Regions from separate parts of the Homo sapiens genome. Here region 1 is reported to be linked to region 2. The links are microRNA targets in miRTarBase. Many come from high-throughput screens and were not tested one by one. Region 2 holds a microRNA gene; the other region holds the end of a gene's coding sequence.

Region 1 (10,161 bases), not on the chromosome of region 2:
GTGGGGGCACAGCATGCAGCAGGGGCCCTCGGCCTCACCAGGTGTCCTGAGCCTGACCAAGCCAGGAGGGCTCTGAGCGCTAGAGAACTGAAGCGGGAATGTGACCTCCGGCCAGGGGATCTGGGCAAGCCGGCCAGGCCTCCCCCCTTTGGCGCCTCCGTCCAGCCCAAGTCCCGCCTGGGCCGCACCCCCTGACTCACTTCCTTTGCATAGAAGCGGAAACCTCCCCAGAGCTTCCTCTACTCCGGCCGGCCGCTCCCTGGGGACCCACAGGTGTCGCTGCCCCTCCAGGCCGAAGCTGGCCCAGGAGGCCCCTGGCCCACCCCCTCGCCCTGGGAGGCGCATTTCCTGCTTGGAGTCTCAGGCCCCAGCGTCTGGCACAGGCAGGGGCCTGCGGAGCTGAGGGCAGTGGACCAGCTGCAGGTAGGGGGTGGGTTGGGGCCCAGGGCCCAGTTCCTGCCAGTCAGTGGCTCTCTTGCTCCGACCGGCCTCTTCTTTCTGTCCATCTTTTCGTTTCACCTCCACTAGTCTCCGGGGGGCTCCCTGCACTGCTCAGCTCGTTCACTGGAGGGGTGTTGGGAGGACCCCAGTTTTGGAGTCGGGGCTGGGAGGCCTGGGTTGAGCCTGGGGACGGGGCCCGGGCCTATTCTCAAAATCATAAGTTCCAGCCAGACCCCCGCCAAGTGTTCTGGAGCGTGTGGGGGCGTCTCTGAACTCCTGGGCGCTCAGGCCTCTGCTTCCCGCGGCCCCTCCTTGGGAGACGGCCCAGTCCAGTGGGAGCCGCGGGCGGGGGCAGGGTCCGGGGGTGACTGTTCACCCCAGTGGGCGCCTGGGCGGCCACTGACTCCTTCGACGACTCCTCCAGGAAGCCGGGGCGGCCACCAGATAAGCCTCTACCCCGCCACTTCCTCAAGGCCCGCGGCCGTTTATGGGAAGACCCGAGAGATTTGCATCGGGGCCCTGCGGAGGGGCGGAGGGGCGGAGGGGCGGAGGGGTCGCTTGCCGGTCTGAGGGGCGAGGCCGCGACCAGGCCCCTGGCCCTGGGGCAGCCCGGGCCGCACCCCACGGGACTCCCAGGGGGTAAGATCACTCCGGGGACCGGTTCCGGCGGCCCGCGGGAAAGGGCAGTGGCGGGAGTCCAGAGACCCTCCCCGTCTTCCCGTTGCAGGGAGGGCGACCTGTATGCGGAGCGCCGTTCCTGCGACATGGACCGCGGCCAGCCCAGCCTGGAGCCTGCTGCCGCGGCCCCCCGAGCCTCGGGCCGGTGCGTGATCGCGCCCGTGCGCGCTGTGCTCCGCCTGCGCCGCCGGGTGTGTGTCCTACGCAAACGGCGCCTCCTGCAGCCGGGTGGGGGGCCCGACGTCGGGACCGGGGCGCCCAGGCCGGGCTGCAGCCCCCGGGCACCGCGCGCGGACCTGGACCAGCCAAAGTTCTTCACCTTCGACAGCCCCGCGGAGCTACCCTCCAGGACGCCACGCAAGAAGCGCCGGCGCAGCCGCCTGGTGCTTTACCCGGAGACCTCGCGCAAGTATCGGCCGCGCGTGGAGCACAGGAGCCGCGCGCAGCGCTGCCTTCTGCTGCTAGTCGCCATCGTGGGCTTCCAAGTTCTCAACGCTATCGAGAACCTGGACGATAACGCGCAGCGCTATGACCTCGACGGGCTGGAGAAAGCGCTGCAGCGCGCGGTGTTCGGCCAGCCCGCTGCCGTATCGCGCATCGTGGCGCTGATGCGGGACTACCTGGCCACGCATGTGCACAGTCGTCCGCTCCTCCTGGCGCTGCACGGGCCCAGTGGCGTGGGCAAGAGCCACGTGGGCCGCCTGCTGGCGCGCCACTTCCGCTCGGTGCTGGAGGACAGCGCGCTCGTGCTGCAATACCATGCGCGGCACCACTGCCCCGAGGCGCGCGCCGCACAGGACTGCCGCGAGGAGCTGGCGCGGCGCGTGGCCGACGTGGTGGCGCGGGCCGAAGCGGAGGAGAAGACCCCACTCTTGGTGCTGGACGACGTGGAGCTCATGCCGCGGCCGCTGCTGGACGAGCTGCACGGCTTCCTGCAGCCGCAGCGCTCCCACCACTTCCACAACGCCATCTACGTGCTCCTCAGTGGCGCGGGTGGCGCCGAGGTCACGCGCTTCGTGCTGCAGAACGCGTCCCGCGCGCTGCCCCTGCGCCCCGACGGCTTCCGCAGTGCCGAGGCCGCAGCGGCGCAGGCGGAAGAAGACCTGCGCGCCAGCCTGCTGGCTGTGCTGTCCCGGGAGCATCCGCTGTGGCAGGCCGCGGCCATCGTGCCGTTTCTGCTGCTGGACAAGCGGGATGTGGTCAGCTGCTTCCGGGACGAGATGGCGGGTGAGGGCTTCTTTCCTGACCAGGCCCGCGCGGAGAACCTGGCCGCGCAGCTCAGCTTCTACCGCGTGGCTGGCCGCGAGTTTGCCGTCACCGGCTGCAAGCAGGTGGTGGCCACGGTGAACCTCCTGTAGTGGAGGCGCAGGACGGGACGTTTGGGTTGATGGCGGCAGTAGGAGGGCGACCAGGGACCTTGTGGGCTGGTGCAGGCCCCTGAGGTTTCTAGTGAATTTGTGGCTGCCCGGCTGGTGGGTGCGGATCAGCTTGGAGCTCTGCTTCCAGGTCCACACCCGCCTCAGAGTCCGGAGTCTGTCCCTGGGGGCGGCAGGACAGCAGCCACCTCCCTCCCAAACTTGCCCATTGCCCTGCTGGGCGTCCCAGGCATGGTCTGGTGCGTTCTCCCTGTGGCCCCAAGAGGTGGGTTCCCATGGTACAAGGATGATCTCAGGGCCAACAATTCCCGGGGTCACACAGCTGGGACGTGACCCCGCCTCTTGGGGGTGGTCGCGTGTTGCTCAGTGCTGAAGTGGGGTTCTCATTCCGGCCCCCCTGGAGATGACCCCGGAGGAGGCCACAGCCAACCATGACAGTGCTGGGGCTCTGGCTGCCTTCTCCACCCACCCCACCCCTCACTCAGGTCGTGTTTTCAGGAGCTCAAGGCTGGAGTGTCTTGACAGTAAGGGGAGGGGAGCGGAGGCGGAGGCGCCTCAGGCAGCCTCTCCCCCTCCTTCCTGGACCCCCCAACCCCGGGCCCGCCAGCCCTGGCTTGGGCTTACTGGGTGACCGAGAGCCCGCGGGGCAAGCGGGAGGTGCCTAGGCCTCTCCCCATCCCCCTCTTCTCCGCACGTGGGACCCTTAGCCCGTGGCCAGTCCCCTGGTCACCACGATTGCGCGACCTCCCTTTCCCTGGGGCCTTTTGTGCCCCGAGTTCCGCCCACCCGCACCCTCTGCGCAGAGCGCCCTCCCCACGCCAGTCGACCCCACACCCCACACTCCCCACGCGCCGCCTCCCGGAAGCCCTCCTGGACGCCTCCCGTGGATGGGCCCACCGCGCCCACGGGGGCTTTAGGGGAAGGTGCTTTGGGCGTTTTTTGCGCCATGTCTCCTCGGGGCCGGCGGTTGCCTCGGGACGGTTCTCGCCTCCTCCCACAGCCCCGGTGTCTGGGACGCACCCGGCAGCCCCGCTGCTGCCGCCTTGTGGCGCGCCCGGCCCAGCCGGTGGCTTCTGTGGTCGCCGGGGGCTGAGCGCGCGGCTGGGCCCTGAGTCCCCCAGGCCGCCCCGATCCTCTGTCCCCGCCGCCGGCCCCGCTGCAGTCCCAACCCGGGCCTGCCCGGGAGGAGCGCAGGGGCGGCGATGACCAGTCCCGAAAGGGGCTCAGAGGGCAGCGAGGAGGTTTCACGCCGGTGCGGGGCGCCGTCGAGGTGGGGGCACCGCGAAGGTGGAGGCGGGGCCGCGCCGGAAGCCCCGAGTCGAGCGCACACGGCGGGCGCCCCTGGCAAGTGGGACTCCTCCGGCCCCGAGGCCTGAACTCAGCCCGGAGACCGCGCCCACCAGCGCCGGTGTCCCCGGAGGGGCCCCGCTAGTTCCCTGAGCAGAGGTCCTGCGGCTTCCCGGAGGGTGTCCTGTTCTCTCCCCCGCCTCGCATCCATTCTCGCCCTGGTGGTTGGTGTCTGTGGTCGGGGGCGAGGGCCGTCTAGTGGAGACGGGGATTCAGGCCGCTTGAAAGTCTGGGATCTCTGGGCGGATGGCAGCGGCTCCGCGGAGCTCGAGCTCGGCGCGCAGGTCCTGGGCCCAGGGCGGGAGCGCTAGCGAGAGGGCTGCCCCGTCCTGCCCAGAGGGTCCTGAGGACTCCCGCTGCTCCTGGAGTCTTGGGGAGGGGTCCGGCTCCACGGGGTGGGGGTGGGGGCTACCAGGAAACCTTTGCCTCCTGGGGCTGTGCAGGACCGGCTAGCCAGCGCTGGGAACCAGGGCTGAGTTCAGCCCAGCTCTGTCCACCCCAACCCCAGGGCTAGGGGAAGGAGCTGGGAGAAGGAGCCCCACCTCTCCCAGGCGAGTATCTGTCCCAGGAGCCCACACAGAGGGACACCCAGCTCTGGTCTGGCCTTCGTGTTGGCTTCAAGGTGGTAACAGAGAGAGCTGCAGAGTGGGGGTGTGTTTGCCAGTCCCTGCATGGGTGAATGTTGGGGTGCCCACTGCTCCCCAGGCAGGACCCCCAGGACTGTCAGCTCCCCTTCCCACAGAGCACCCACCTGGAGGTGTCACCTGCCGGCAAGCGTGGGCCATTCATCCACCTGTCAGTCAACAACACCCGCTGAGCATCGGCTTGTATCAAAAGGTCCAGACCTAAGGGGAAATTTTATCTCTTTCTTTCTTTCTTTCTTTTTTTTTTGACACAGAGTTTTGCTCTTGTTGCCCAGGCTGGAGTGCAATGACACGATCTCGGTTCACTGCAACCTCTGCCTCCTGGGTTCAAGCGATTCTCCTGCCTCAGCCTCCCGAGTAGCTGGGATTACAGGCGCCCGCCATCACGCCCGGGTAATTTTTTTGTATTGTTGGTAGAGACGGTGATTCACTATGTTGGCCAGGCTAGTCACGAACTCCTGACCTCGTGATCCGCCCACCTCGGCCTCCCAAAGTGCTGGGATTACAGGTGTGAGCCACCGTGCCCGGCCTCTTTTTATTTATTCCTAAAATATTACCTTGAGGCCAAATTCTGCGCTTAAGGAGAATGTGCACCAAGTGCTGGGGTGGGGGCTGGTAATAAACGAGGCCACAAATCATGCTTGTTAATAAATTGTGTGGTTCAAATCTGACGACCTACTGTTTGGTTTGTTTCTTGTCTGTCTGGTCTGTTAATAATTGAGGAGGATGCTGAAATCTTTCCCTAATTGTAGATTTATGGTAGATTTATCCATTTCTCTCTAAGCTTCTATTTAATAGGACATGCTGATCGAGAGTTTTGTTTTTTGTTTTGTTTTGAGAAACTTCTGAATGGGGAAGTGGTGTGGACCTGGAGGCTGATGGAAGGATTGGGGCTCACATGCAGTCTGCAGCTCAAACATCCGGGCTTTCCAGGAAATCCATAAATAACTAAAGTATTTTCTTTAATTGCCCTGGACAGGTGCTGAGGGCAGATGACCCAGGCTGGACATGCGGGAAGTTGCCAGCTAACCAGATGATCCCAAATGTCATAGCTGCTCTCCCTCATATGTGCAGAAACTGTTTCTGTGCAGTTGTCTCTGAGTTATTCTTTGACATCTGCCATGTGTCATTACGTAGTAACCCTCGTGATCTGTGTGTGCACATCATAATGACTTTTTTTTTTTTTTTTGAGACAAGGTCTCGCTCTGTCACCCAGGCTGGAGTGCAGTGGTGTGATCTCCACTCACTGCAGCCTCCACCTCCTGGGTTCAAGTAATTCTCCTGCCTCAGCCTCCTGAGTAGCTGGAATTACAGACGCCCACCACCACACCCAGCTAATTTTTGTATTTTTAGTAGGGACTCAGTTTCACTATGTTGGCCAGGCTGGTCTCGAACTCCTGACCTCAGGTGATCTACCCATCTCAGCCTCCCAAAATGCTGGCATTACAGTTGTGAGCCAACGTGCCTGGCTTCTCTTTTCTTTTAATAGAGACAGGTTCTCTCTGTCATTCAGGCTGGAATGCAATGGCGTGATTGTGGCTCACTACAGCCTCGACCTCCTGGGCTCAAGCGATTCTCCCACCTCGGCCTTCCAAAGTGCTGGGATTCCAGGCGTGAGCCGCCGCGCCTGGCCATTCTCTGCATTTTTCAAGGTCAGCAACACTGCATCCTTCCGACCACAGCCAGGAAGAGTTTTCTGCTTTTAAAGACCCATGTGACTAGATGTGTCCACCTGGGCCAGGCGCAGTGGCTCACGCCTATAATCCCAGCACTTTGGGAGGCCAAGGCGGGCAGATCACCTGAGGTCAGGAGTTCAAGACCAGCCTGGCCAACATGGTGGAACCCTGTCTCTACTAAAAATACAAAAATCAGTCGGATGTGGTGTCGAGTTCCTGTCATCCCAGCTACTTGGGGGGCTGAGGTAGGAGAATCGCTTGAATCCAGGAGGTGGAGCTTGCAGTGAGCCAAGACCCTGCGACTGCACTCCAGCCTGGACGACAGAGTGAGACTATGTCTCAAAAAAGATAAAATAAATAAGTAAATGTGTCCACCTGGGTAATAACGGATTATCTTCCCATCCAAGGTCCACACTTACCTACATCTGCAAAGTCCCTGAGTCAGTTTTGGTAATTTGTGTCTTTCTTGGAACTTCTAGGAATTTGTCCATTTCATCTAAATTGTCTAATTTTATTGATTTTTTTTTTTTGAGACAGTCTTGCTCTATCGCCCAGGCTGGAGTGCAGTGGCTCGATCTTGGCTCACTGCAACCTCTGCCTCCTGGGTTCAAGGGATTCTCCTGCTGTAGCCTCCCTAGTACCTGGGACTACAGGTGTGTGCCACCATGCCCAGCTAATTTTTTGTTTTGTTTTGTTTTGAGACGGAGTTTCACTCTTGTTGTCTAGGCTGGAGTGCAATGGTGCGATGATCTCGGCTCATTGCAACTTCCACCTCCTGGGTTCAAGCAATTCTCCTGCCTCAGTCTCCCGAGTAGCTGGGATTGCAGGCACGCACCAACATGCTCAGCTAATTTTTGTATTTTTAGTAGAGACAGGGTTATACCATATTGGACAGGCTGGTCTCAAACTCCCCACTTACAGTGATCCTCCAGCCTAGACCTCCCAAAGTGCTGGGATTACAGGCGTGAGCCACCATGCCTGGCCCTAGGCAAACTTTTTGAAATAAAGCTTTTTTTTTTTTTTTTGGTTTGTTTGTTTGAGACAGGGTCTCACTCTGTCACCTAGGCTGGAGGGCAGTGGTGCAATCTCAGCTAGTGGTGCAATCTTGGCTCACTGCAGCCTTAAACTCCCAGGTTCAAGCGATTCTCCTGCCTTGGCCTCCTGAGTAGCTGGGACCAGAGGCGTGTGCCACCATGTCCTGGTAATTTTTGTTTTTTTTTTTTTTTTTGAGACAGAGTCTCGCTCTGTTGCCCAGGCTGGAGTGCAGTGGCGCGATCTCTGCTCACTGCAAGCTCCGCCTCCTGGGTTCATGCCATTCTCCTGCCTCAGCCTCCCAAGTAGCTGGGACTACAGGCGCCCATCACCACGCCTGGCTAGTTTTTTGCATTTTTTTTTTTTGAGATGGAGTCTTGCTCTGTCATCCAGGCTGGAAGTGCAGTGGCGCAATCTTGGCTCACTGCAAGCTCCGCCTCCCGGGTTCTCGCCATTCTGCCTCAGCCTCCTTAGTAGCTGGGATTACAGGCGCCTGCCACCATGACTGGCTAATTTTTTTTTTTGCATTTTTTTAGTAGAGACGGGGTTTCACCATGTTAGCCAGGATGGTCTCGATCTCCTGACCTCATGATCCGCCCTCCTCGGCCTCCCAAAGTGCTGGGATTACAGGCATGAGCCACCGTGTCCGGCCCCACATTGGGTAGTTTCTATTGATCTAGTCTCAAATTGCATGGCGAGCACATACAATTCCAGCTGCCCGGGAGGCTGAGGCAGGAGAATCACTTGAATCCAGGAGGCAGAGGTTGCAGTGAGCCGAGATTGAGCCATTGCACTCCAGCCTGGGAGACAGAGCGAGACTTATCTCAAAAAAAAAAAAAAAAAATCTGTTGCTCAACCTCTTTAGTGGATTTCTCATTTCAGTTTTTGTGCTTTTTAACTCCAAACTTTCCATTTCCATTTGGTTCTTTTTTTTTTTGTCTTTCAATTCTTTATTATATATAAAAAATTGTTTTCCATCTTGAAAGTTTTTTTTTTAAATTTTTTTTGAGAGATGAATCTCAATCTGTTTCCCAGGTTGGAGTGCAGTGGTGCAATCTCAGATCACGGCAACCTCTGCCTCCTGGGTTCAGGCAATTCTCCTGCCTCAGCCTCCTGAGTAGCTGGGATTACAGGCATGTGCCACCACGCCCAGCTAATTTTTGTAGTTTTAGTAGAGACAGGATTTCTCCATGTTGGCCAGGCTGGTCTCAAACTCCTGATCTCAGGTGATCCACCACCTTGGCCTCCCAAAGTGCTGGGATTACAGGTGTGAGCCACTGCACCCGGCCTAATTTTTGTATTTTTTTAGTAGAGACGGGGTTTCACTATATGTTGGCCAGGCTGGTCTCGAACTCCTGAGATCAAGCAATCCTCTTGCCTCGGCCTCTCAAAGTGCTGGGATTACAGGCGTGAGCCACCGCACCTGGCTTCACCTTGAAAGTTTTAAAGCCAATGTATCTTCTCTTTCTGAAGATTTGAAACATTTTGTAGACAGAATGGAAAGCAATGAAAATCTACAAAAATGTTTTGAATACCCAAAAGAAAAAGCATCAGATTTGTTTCTGGCAATACCTGTGGTTGAGATGAAGGAATCCATAGCAGAGGTTTCTTCAGAGCCTCAGGCTTGGGATCAGTTTTTGTTGCACTATCAGGTTGAGTGTCTGCGATTACATGTTCAGAGGATCAACCAAAGTCAGAATTTCTGAAGTTGAAGTGAAACTACAGTATACTTTTTTTTTTCCAGACAGAGTTTCACTCGGTTGCCCAGGCTGGAGTGTAATGGCATGATCATAGCACATTGCTCAAGCACATAGCAACAGGCTCAAGCAATCCTCCTGCCTCAGCCTCCCGAGTAGCTGGGACTACAGGTGCATGTCACCACGCCCAGCTAATTTTGTTCATTTTTTGTACAGATGAGGTTTCACTATGTTGCCCAAGCTAGTCTCAAACTCCTGGGCTCAAGGGATCCTCCTGCTTTGGCTTCTCAAAGTGCTGGGACTACAGGCTTGAGCCACCACACCTGGCCCAGACTGTGTTCTTTTTTTTTTTTTTTTTGAGACGGAGTCTCGCTCTGTCGCCCAGGCTGGAGTGCAGTGGTGCGATCTCGGCTCACTGTAACCGCCTTCTGAGTTCACACTATTCTCCTGTCTCAGCCTTCCAAGTAGCTGAGATTGCAGCATGTGCCACCACACCTGGCTAACTTTGTATTTTTAGTAGAGATGGGGTTTCACCATGTTGGTCAGGCTGGTCTTGAACTCCTGACCTCAGGTGATCCGCCTGCCTTGGCCTCCCAAAGTGCTGAGATTACAGGCGTGAGCCACTGCACCTGACCCAGGAGAAGGTCTTTGACTGTGTGGAGCTGGTGATGGATGAGCTACAAGGAGCAGTCCCTGCCATGGGCCTTCGTGGACTGAGGCCGTCAGAGCCTCCAGCAGGTGTCAGTGCAGCTCAGGGAGAGACACCCACTCAGCACCTCCCAAGAGATGCAGACTCATGTCCAGGACCTCGTGGAGTTTCTGGAGGCTGGAAAGGGAACGGGGATGGAAGGCGCTCCAGCACGTGGCCATTGCCCGGGGGTGTGAGCTGGTGATTTCTGCCCTTCTGCCTCTGAGGATGAGCGTAGAGCGTCGTAGTTTTTCTTATTTTTTTTTTCAAGACGGAGTTTCGCTCTTGTTGCCCAGACTGGAGTGCAGTGGCGTGATCTCGGCTCACTGCAACCTCTGCCTCCCGGGTTCAAGTGATGCTTCTGCTTCAGCCTCCCGAGTAGCTTACCTGGCTAACTTTTGTAGTTTTAGTAGAGACAGGGTTTCATCATGTTGCCCAGGCTGGTCTCCAACTCTTGACCTCAGGTGATCCACCTGTGTCGGCCTCCCAAAGTGCTGGGATTACAGGTGTAAGCCACCGAGCCCAGCCTCTTTTCTTTTTTTAAAATTTTTATTTTTTTGAGACAGGGTCTTACTCTGTCAC
Region 2 (10,161 bases):
CTGTATTTGTTCCCAAAACTGTTTATGCCAGACTTAATGTTATTTTAATTATAGGACTTAAGCAGGTATTATATAAACTCATGAAACATGATTACAAAAGAAAGTTGCTATTTTTATCCTAGGTAGAATGCTTTGAAGAGACTTCATGAGTCTAAGTCCTAAAAAGAAAATGCTATCAAACTAGATATGGAAAAAACAACTCTAATAGTTTTGGGGGGAAACGTTTTTAAAATGTAGAAGAATTATGTACTTACATTGCTTCATAAGTGTTCTTAAGTCTTGATTCATTTGTAATTAGAAACCATAAATAATCAATTATTGGTGTGGTTTATGCAAAAAAGATGATTCCAAACACCAATCAAGTTACATTCTAAGAAGAAGTCTTGGCCCTGTTTCAAGACATTGCTGAGTAAATATGGATTTCTGTGTTTTGAGTTGAAATAAAATACATATCACATGTATATGTCATTTTTGTATGATTCCCTGTTTTACCCAAGTTTGTTTTTGATCCATTTTTATTTTACTGTGGCAAAATATACATAACATGACTTTTACCATTTTAACAATTCTTTATTTTATTGTATTGTATTTTTTGAGACGGAGTCTGGCTCTGTCACCCAGGCTGGAGTGCAGTGGTGCGATCTCGGCTCACTGCAACCTCAGCCTCCCGGGCTCAAGTGATTCTCCTGCCTCAGCCTCCGGAGTAGCCGGGATTACAGACACGCACCACCACACCTGGCTAACTTTTGTATTTTTAGTAGAGACGGGGTTTCCCCACGTTGATCAGGCTGGTCTCGAGCTCCTGACCTCAGGGGATCCACCCACCTTGGCCTCCCAAAGTGCTGAGATTATAGGTGTGAGCCATCGCACCCAACCAAATTTTATTTTTTTAGTTTTAGATTCAGGTGTGTTATGTGGATAGATTGTGTGAGGCCGAGGTTTGGGAGCACAGTGCACAGCAGGTAGTTTTTCAACTCCTGCCCCTCTCCCTCCCTTCTTTTGGACTCCCCGGTGTCTATTGTTCCCGTCTTGATTTCCACTGTACCTAATGCTTAGTGCTCCCTTAAAAGTGAGAACAGGTGGTATGTGGTTTTTTTACTTGACATTTCTTTATTAATCTTTTCAGGTAGGACAGCTTCTGCCATATCTGCAGCTTCTGCCATATCTGCAGCTTCTGCCACATCTGGGTCCGACTGGTGCACAAAGCACGCAGAGGACATGACAGTGGATGAGGAATGAGAGATGACCTGGGGTCAGACTATGAAGGGTCTTTTAAGCCATGATGTGTTTGGACCTTGGTAAGTAATAGGAACCACTAAAACTTTTTTTTTTTGAGATGGAGTCTTGCTCTGTCACCCAAGCTAGAGTGCAGTGGCGTGATCTCAACTCACTGCAGCCTCCACCCCCTGGGGAACCATTAAAATGTTTTAAACAAGGGAGTGACTTGACCACATGGCATGTTTTAAAAAGCTATCTCCACGGCTCCAGTATGCTGACTGCAGACCAGAAGTCCAACTAGGAGGGTCCTGAAGCAATTTGGGGTGCCTGTGATTATTGAATAAAGGAACAGCATTGGGGATTCAGAGACAAGAATAGACTCAAGGGACATTTAGAAATTACTATCCATAGAACCTGGTTATTGATTGGACATCACATATAAAGGAGAAGCTAGAGTCAAAAACCACACTTAAGTTTGTAGCTTGGATACCTGAGTTTTTGGTGGTGATTCCTCTAAGATAGAAGACAAAATGGAGGAATTCAGCCTGGGTGGAAAGATGCTGAACTCAATTTTGGACATATTGAGCCTCACAATCTTGTGAGACATTCACATAAAGGTGTTGAGTGTCTGGTTGGATTCATGTGTGTGATGCTCAGAAGAACATCTTGGGCTGAATACTTAGATTTGTGAGTAATCAATACACAGAAAGAAATTCAAGCCATTACAATAAATAAAATGGCCTGCCTGAGATACAGAATGAAACGTTGGCCTAAGAGAAGATATCTAAAAGATTGTCATGAATCAATAAGAAAATGACAATAAACCCAATAAAATGTGCAAAATACATTTTTAAAATATTTCACACAAGAAGAAAACCATAAAAAAAAGCATGAAAAGATTCTTCACTGCCCTACTAGTCAAGGGTACGCAATTGCATTTCCACAATGAGATAGTTTTTATGCCACTAGATTGACAAAAATTAATATCTGACAATGTCAAATAAGGATTTGAAAAGGTTTATACTTTACTGGTGAGATTGTATAATTGCTTTGGAAAACATTTCAGCATTATCTTGTGAAGCATACCACATAATTCTACTCCTAGGTATCCACCCTAGAGAAACTCTTGAATATGTGCACCAGGAGACATATTCAAAAGTGACTTCAGGACCTTTGTTCATAATAGTACAATACTAAAGGCAACCTAAAGAGTCAACAGCAGAGAATGGATAAGGGGCAATGTATCCATGAAAAGTATCATAATAAAGCAGTAGAAAAAAATGAATTGCACACATGTGTGAGAACATTAAGGAATCTTAGAAACATGATGTTGAATGGAAAAGGAAAGAACCCAGAAGACTTTGATTTATTCAGTTGGTGCGAACGTAATTGCAAAAACCTCATTACGTTTGCATCAACCTAATAGATATTATTTTAATAAACCTAAAAATAAGCAAAACTGGGCAAAATATTATTTACATATGCATGCATTTGGGATAAAACAAAACAAAAAATCAAAAGAATAATTCTAAAATTCAGGATAGTGGTTCTCTCTGTGCGGAAAAGAAAAGCAGGACACAGAAGGAGGTTAGGAGCAGAAGTGAGGGTGGATACGAGTTACTGGGAATGGACTTGTCCTTTGCTTGACTGCTGGGTTCAGAAATGTTCATCATACTATATTTTGTAACTTACACATATTATAAATAGTCTCAAATAGCATACTAAAATTAATACAAAAAATGAAAAAAATCGCACTTAGAGTTACAATTTTTTTCATCCTAATTAAGACAGACTTCTGGATTTAAGGACTGCATGAGTTTACTCTTTTGTTAAAATTGCTTTTACCAAAATTTTAGGACTTTAACTTCCTCCCTAGGTGGAAATATATGGCCCAACCACAGGACACACCAAGGACCATGGAGTGTGCATTTTGGGGTAATAAATTACCCTTGGCTTCCTTTTACTCACTGTATTTCCCATCACTCTGACTCATTCAATTATTTATTTCCACTCATTTGTATTGTGTGCATTTGTATAAGCCACCTCAGATTCTTTGTAGAATGAGGTGCAAGTATTCAAAATTAAAACATTCTACCCCATGAGGGTAGAAAAAAAACCTCAAAATTCTGTCATACTTTTTCCCATTTATGGCAGGAAATGCAGAAAAGTGGCCAATTCCTTTCCTCCAGATGGCAGGCTGCGGCTAAAAGTCTAACAGCACTCCCTGACAGCCTGGAGGTGGCCAGAAAAGCCACACACAGGCTGCAAGAGAGGATGTGTGGCCCACCAAGCCCTGGCACTCTGGATTCTCAGCCAGAGTCTTAATTAAATCAGATACCATTTTGAGAAGGCTTCCAGAGGCCTTGCACCATGAGCTGGCCTGAGCTCCTGAGCTCATGCCCTCTACAGTCCCGCAGCCCTCCAGACCAGGGAGACAAGGGATCTCCTACGGCTGGCACCCTCCTTCATTACCCACAGATGCCCAGTTGTGCCTGTCCCACAGAATAATAATAGGCCACTCTATCCAAAGTTGCCATATCCAATGAGATACAACCCAATTGCCAGGGAAGCTGCTCCTGCCTGCATTGTACCTAATTTGTTGGCCACAGGAAGGGTTTTCTGCATCCCAGAGAAGGTCAGGATCATTAGTTTCTGACTCTATATCAGTGTAGTAAAACTTAAAGAAGTCATAGTTCCAGTCCTGATTTAGCTTGGCTGGATCCCCACCCACCCAGTCCAAGGGGACTCCAGAAAATAAACTAGGCATTTATACCCACTGTTGAGGAAGAATCTGCTTCAAGCCACAAGGTGAGGGCTGGAGAAGCTTCCATTAGCCATTATTCGCCAGCCATGGTATCCCTAATCACACAGATGGCTATGACCCATAAGTCTCTTTAATAACACTGTCCACTGTTTCCCATGAGATGTCTACCATCAGATTGCCTATAAGAATAGTTTCAGATGAAGAAGGAGGAGGAAGAAGAGAAAGAGAAAGAAAAAGAGGAAAAGGAAGAGGAGGAGGAGGAGGGGGAGGAAAAGGAAGACGAGGAGGGACAGGAAGAGGAGGAAGAACTACATATCCTCACATGATGTGTATGGCTGTGAGATTGACGCATTCCACAAGCTCTGCACCTACACCAATATATTAAAATCACACTGGAGCGGGGACCTCCGCAGATCCTCCTTCTCCCTGTATAAGCCCCAGTGAACTTCGTAATTTTTTTTAAGTTGGAGGGACAAAAGAAGTTGCCTCTTCCAGGCATATTCAGATCTCAAGATAGTCATCATTCTTTACCACCACCTCTTCCTACAATCTCTTGAACCAGCTCTGTGCAGGATGAGCCTTTATGAAATTCATGCTCAGAGGCACCCACAACTTTGTCTCTAGAAAAATGATGAGTGGAGGATGGGCTTCTAAATGTGCTCAACTCATTTTGAATGCACAAGAAAGCCATTTGGCCCATGTGACATCTCAGCTATCTTCCAGAACTTACTGAATGGCAACTTTGAAGAGCCCCTGTCCTGAGGGCTTGGGATCTAATTGGATGATATCCCTACCTGACGCCATAGGTGGAAAAAAAACCTGTTTTGAGACGGACTTAACCAGCAAACACAGTGTGTGCTGTGGACCAAATCAAAAATCCTCCTATGTAAGCAATGAGGTAGAGTTCTTGCATCTTGTCTTGTCGATTTGATAGCCTAAGCATTAGAGGATGGGCTATTAGAATCTACTCAAAGGGCTGGGGGAGGTGGCTCACGCCTGTAATCCCAGCACTTTGGGAGGCCGAGACGGGATCACTTGAGCTCAGGAGTTAGAGACCAGCCTGGCCAACATGGCAAAACCCCATCTCTACTCAAAATACAAAAATTAGCTGGGCATGTTGGCACGCACCTATAATCCCAGCTACTCAGGAGGCTGACGCAGAAGAATGGCTTGAACCCGGGAGACAGAGGCTGCAGTGAGCCGAGATCACGCCACTGCACTCCAGCCTGGGTGACGGAGTGAGATTCCGTCTCAAAAAAAAAAAAAAAAAAAAAATCTACAGGGAAAGAAATGCTGGACCCCTGCAAAATCCCATCAAACCATAGCATATGGTTTATTGAGAGAACAGTGGCCAGAAACAGAACAGACTCTGCTTTCTACTTGAGAAGTAGAAACTCAGAGCCAAGCAAGGCCTTCTTTTGGGTAAGTCCAGGGAGAGCACAGCCTCCTCCACTCAGGAAAAGGGGTACAAAGTGAAGGAAAGGGCATGTTCATATAGGGCCACCTTTCATAGTTGCCCCTACTCTCGTCTCCATAAAGAGCTGCAAACCTCTGCACTCATTGACCAAGGGAGCTCCTCTAAGTTTTTCCTCTCACCTTTGCTCCTACTGATGTAGAACAATTGCAATTTCTAAGTCCAATAGTAGAAAGGCAATAGCATCTTTGAAAAATGTTGAGAAATGCAGTTTCCTCCCACGGGCACACACATTCAGCTCCTTCCTCTCTGCCTGAGGCTTTCTCATGGGCAGGCTACCTGGCTTTCTCACTTGGCTTCTCTCCAAGACACCCCCTCTCAGATCACATAGAGAGGTTTCCATGCCTGACCCTGACTGCTGACAAAACACCCAAGACCCCTGCTCTTCTAGCTGATTAATAAAGTTAAGAAATAACATGAAAAGGTAAGCATTTTTATCATTATTATCCTGAGTAGAGAACCCTGCTTAACCATTCCCTGACGTCTGATTGATTTCTGGTCTCAGTTTTAAATTGCATTTGCAGAATACAAATTGCATTGAGGTTGGCATCGCTAAAGATTATTTCATGGAACACTAGTCTGAGAAAATGCCTCTAAAAACAGAGAGAGCCCATGGTTAGAATATGTATATTTTCTTGCATAATACGTGCTTCCCCTAGGTTTTCTCATGATTATTTATATTCAAACTTCTCATCGAGCCAGTTTTACTAGATTTCACCTTTTTTTAATAACACCTATGAGCAGAAGAATTGTGGAGAATACACTTTGGACAATGCTGTTCTAACCATATCTTGGAATGGAGATTGCAGGTAGGAAAGTTCAAGTCCCCATTTATTTTAGAAAATGATTTATATACATATCAATGATCTTTAAAAGCAGGGTTTACTTTTTAGACTTCTGTATACATTGCAATTGCATTGTTAAAACACAACCTAGCAGGCAAATATTCTTTAGGCTCTATCCCATAGAACATCCTTTCAACTTATCCTTGGAGGACTTTTACAAGATCCTTCCTCAACTTAGGGGAAGAGGATGGCCAAATGATTTTTTTTAATTTATTTTTATTATACTTTAAGTTCTAGGGTAACTGGACACAACGTGCAGGTTTGTTACATAGGTATACATGTGCCATGTTGGTTTGCTGCACACATCAACTAGTCATTTACATTAGGTATTTCTCCTAATGCTGTCCCTCCCCCTGCCCCGCACCCCGCGACCGGCCCTGATGTGTGAATGAATATCTGTTACTCCTTTCTTTCATTTTTTCCTTCCAGTAGTTAAATTTTTTTTTCACTTCACAAACGACTATAAATTTAAGCTATAATGAGATATCATTAGATAGCCATGACTGTGTCATATGATACCCGTATGTTTCAATTTTTTCTTTTTTTTTAATTATACTTTAAGTTTCAGGGTACCTGCGCACAACGTGCAGGTTTGTTACATATGTATACATGTGCCATGCTGGTGTGCTGCACCCATTAACTCGTCATTTAACATTAGGTATATCTCCTAATGCTATCCCTCCCCCCTTCCCCCACCCCACAACAGGCCCCGGTGTGTGATGTTCCCCTTCCTGTGTCCATGTGATCTCATTGTTCAATTCCCGCCTATGAGTGAGAACATGCGGTGTTTGGTTTTTTGTCCCCGAGACGGAATGTCGCTTGTTGCCCAGGCTGGAGTGCAATGGCGCGATCCTGGCTCACTGCAACCTCTCTGCGTCCTGGGTTCAAGCGATTCTCCTACCTCAGCCTCCCGAGTAGCTGGGATTACAGGCACATGCCACCACACCCGGCTAATTTTTGTATTTTTAGTAGAGACGGGGTCTCACCATGTTGGCCAGGCTGGTCTCAAACTGCTGATCTCAGGTGATCCAACCGCCTCGGCCTCCCAAAGTGCTGGGATTACAGGCATGAGCCACCGCGCCTGGCCATGTTTCACTTTTGAAGAAACTGCCAAACTGTTTCCAAAGGGGCTGCATATTTTACATTTTCACCAATACTGTGTGGGAAATAGTTCCTCCACATCCTTATATACACTGGGTAGGGGTCAGAGATTTTAAAGTCAGACATTCTAATAGGGTTATAGTTGTATCTCGTTATGGTTTTAATTTGTATTTTCATTTCTCTAATAAAAATGATGTCAAACATCTTTTCATATGTTTATTTGCCATCTGTGTATCTCTTTGGTAAAACATCTGTTCAAATCTTTTGCCCATTTTTCAATTGGATTGTCTGTTTCCTTATTATAGAGATTTTATATTTAGGATACAAATCTTTTGTGTAATTTGCAAGTATTTTTTCCCTGATGGTGGCATTCTTAATTTTGATGAAGTCCAACTTAATGATTTTTATTTCCTGGATCATGCTTTTGATGTTGTATCTAAAAAATCTGTGCCTAACCTAAGTTTGTAAAGATCTGTCTCCTAACTTTTTTCCTAGATGTTTTATGGTGTTGGGCTTTATGCTTGGTTCTAGGATCAATTTGATCCATTTTGAGTTAATTTTGCATGTGGTACAAGGTACGGATCAAAGTTCTTTCTTTATTTTTTTTTTAATATGTGTGTCCCATTGTTCCAGCACCATTTGTTTAAAGACCATCCATTCTTCACTGGATGGACTGGCTTTGCATCATTGTTCAAAAGCAATTGACAACTTCCAACTTCCACTTGTAAAGAGCTTGCCATCACTTCCAGCCTCACAAGGAAAATACTGAACAAACTGAAAATCAACAACTCTTCTTTGATCAATCAGAGAAAGGTCACAGGCCATGCTACTACCCCAAAAACTGAGAGAAAGGTAGATGCACAGAATGAGAGCTTACAGGAGCAGAAGCCCCAGCTGTGGTAGGAACACCTAAACAATAATTGACTCATTGCTGGAGACCAAGCTATGGACTAAAAAGTCCTAGCAGCCCATTCTTAGGGGAGCCCCACACTTTCATAAGTTTTACGTCCAGGAGCCCCACCCAGATCTCAGAGTGAAAATTAGAGAAAATCTCCTCTTGTTTCCAGCAAGGGGAGAGGAGCAATCATTTTGAAATATGTTCAGGGTGATCTCTTCCCCTTAACAAAGGCCTGCCCCCAAAGGAACCTCTTCTACTGGGGCATAACTGGGGGTTTTATCAGATCCTGATGGGCCTGTGGGAAGGGATGTCCCCAACACCAGCTCCCTGTGGCTGTCTATGTGGGGTAAGGGAAATAGCTCCAGCCTCCTCTAGCCTTCTTGTTTCTCCAAACGGGAAAGGGAAAGTTGAGAAGCACCCCTGAATGTCACACCTCAGCAGCACAGACTCTCAATGACTGACATCCAGTCACAGGATAATAGAAAGTTTCCCTTCCCCCCAACATATTACCACCATATCAGTAGGGCTCCTGCACACCATCGTTTATCACAGCTTCATTTCTAATTGCCAGAAACAGGAAGATGCCCTTCAGTAGGCGGACGGATAAACAAACCATGGCACATCTATTCGCACTAAAAAGAAATGAGCTGTCAAGCTAGGAAAAGACATGGATGAAACCTTAAATGTATATTTCTAAGGGAAAGCATCCATTCTAAGAGGGCTATCTGTTGTATGACTCCAATTATATAACATTCTGGGAAAAGCAAAACTGTAAAGGCGGTAAAAAATAAATAAATAAATAAGTAATTGCCAGGGGAGGGGAGGTTTTCAGGGGGAGGGAGAGTGAGATGAATAGGTGGGACACAAGGGATGTTTAGGGTAGTGAAAGTATTCTGTAAGATATTGTAACTGTGGATACATAATATTATTTATTTGTCAAAATCCATAGAACATACAACACTAAGAGTGAAGCCTAGTATAAACTATGGGCTTCAGTAAATAATAATGTATCAGTGTAGGTTCACCAGAGGTAGCAAATGAACCACACTGAGGCAAGATGTTAATAACAGGGGAAACTGGTAGGGTGGTGAGCGGAAAGTAGTACAGAGGTTTATGGGAACTCTGCACTATCTGCTCAATGTTTCTGTAAGCCTAAAAATTCTCTTTAAAAAAAGATATATTAATAAATAAAATCTAGGCCAGGTGCTGTGGCTCATGCCTGTAATCCCAGCACTTTGAGAGGCCAAGGCTGGCAGATCACCTGTGGTCAGGAATTTGAGACCAGCCTGGCCAACATGGTGAAACTCTTTCTCTACTAAAAATACAAAAAGTAGATGGGTGTGGTGGTGCACACCTGTAATCCCAGCTACTAGGGAGGCTGGGGCAGGAGAATCTCTTGAACCTGAGAGGCAAAGGTTGCAGTGAGCCAAGATCACGCCATTGCACCCCAGCCTGGGCGACAGAGTGAGACTCAATCTCAAAAAATAATAATAATAAAATAAAATTTAGAAATCAACTGACTGCATATGCTATGTATGTGTGGATCTATTTCTAGACTCTATTACATTCCTTTAGCCTATTTGTCCCCCTTGAGTTCAATGCTACGTTTTAACTTTATAATAATCTTTAATGTGTCTTCAAGGCTTATTTCAAAGTTGTTCTTCTTCAAAGTTGTTTTGACTATTCTAGGTCCTTTATATTACCAGATGAATTCTTAAATCAGCTTGAAATTTTCTATACAAAAGCCTGCTGGAATTTTGATTGGGTTGCATTGAATTTATAGACCAATATAGGGAGAATTAACATCTTAACAATGCTGACTCTCCCAACCTATAAACAAGATACATGGCACATTTGAGTA

The links. The annotated mature microRNA hsa-miR-8052 reads CGGGACUGUAGAGGGCAUGAGC and lies in region 2 at 3,611-3,632, opposite strand. An mRNA with a match to its seed (bases 2 to 7 or 8) in the 3' UTR can be bound and repressed. Matches are read on the target gene's strand: a 7mer-m8 pairs with bases 2 to 8, a 7mer-A1 pairs with bases 2 to 7 and ends in A, and an 8mer does both.
Region 1: miRTarBase lists TOR4A as a target of hsa-miR-8052. Seed matches in the 3' UTR shown: 7mer-m8 at 3,211-3,217, 8mer at 3,655-3,662, 7mer-m8 at 3,703-3,709 and 7mer-m8 at 4,504-4,510.

What each region holds. Positions count from the first base shown.
Region 1 is chr9:137,277,485-137,287,645 of GRCh38, forward strand. It overlaps TOR4A (torsin family 4 member A), which reads left to right and starts at 242. Exons shown (of 2, transcript NM_017723.3): 1 at 242-423; 2 at 1,169-5,157. The coding sequence starts at 1,206. The coding sequence ends at 2,477. RefSeq lists silencers at 143-462, 743-802, 3,468-3,707, 9,286-9,385 and an enhancer at 9,686-9,735.
Region 2 is chr11:130,660,216-130,670,376 of GRCh38, reverse strand. It overlaps MIR8052 (microRNA 8052), which reads right to left and starts at 3,642; the gene lies at 3,574-3,642.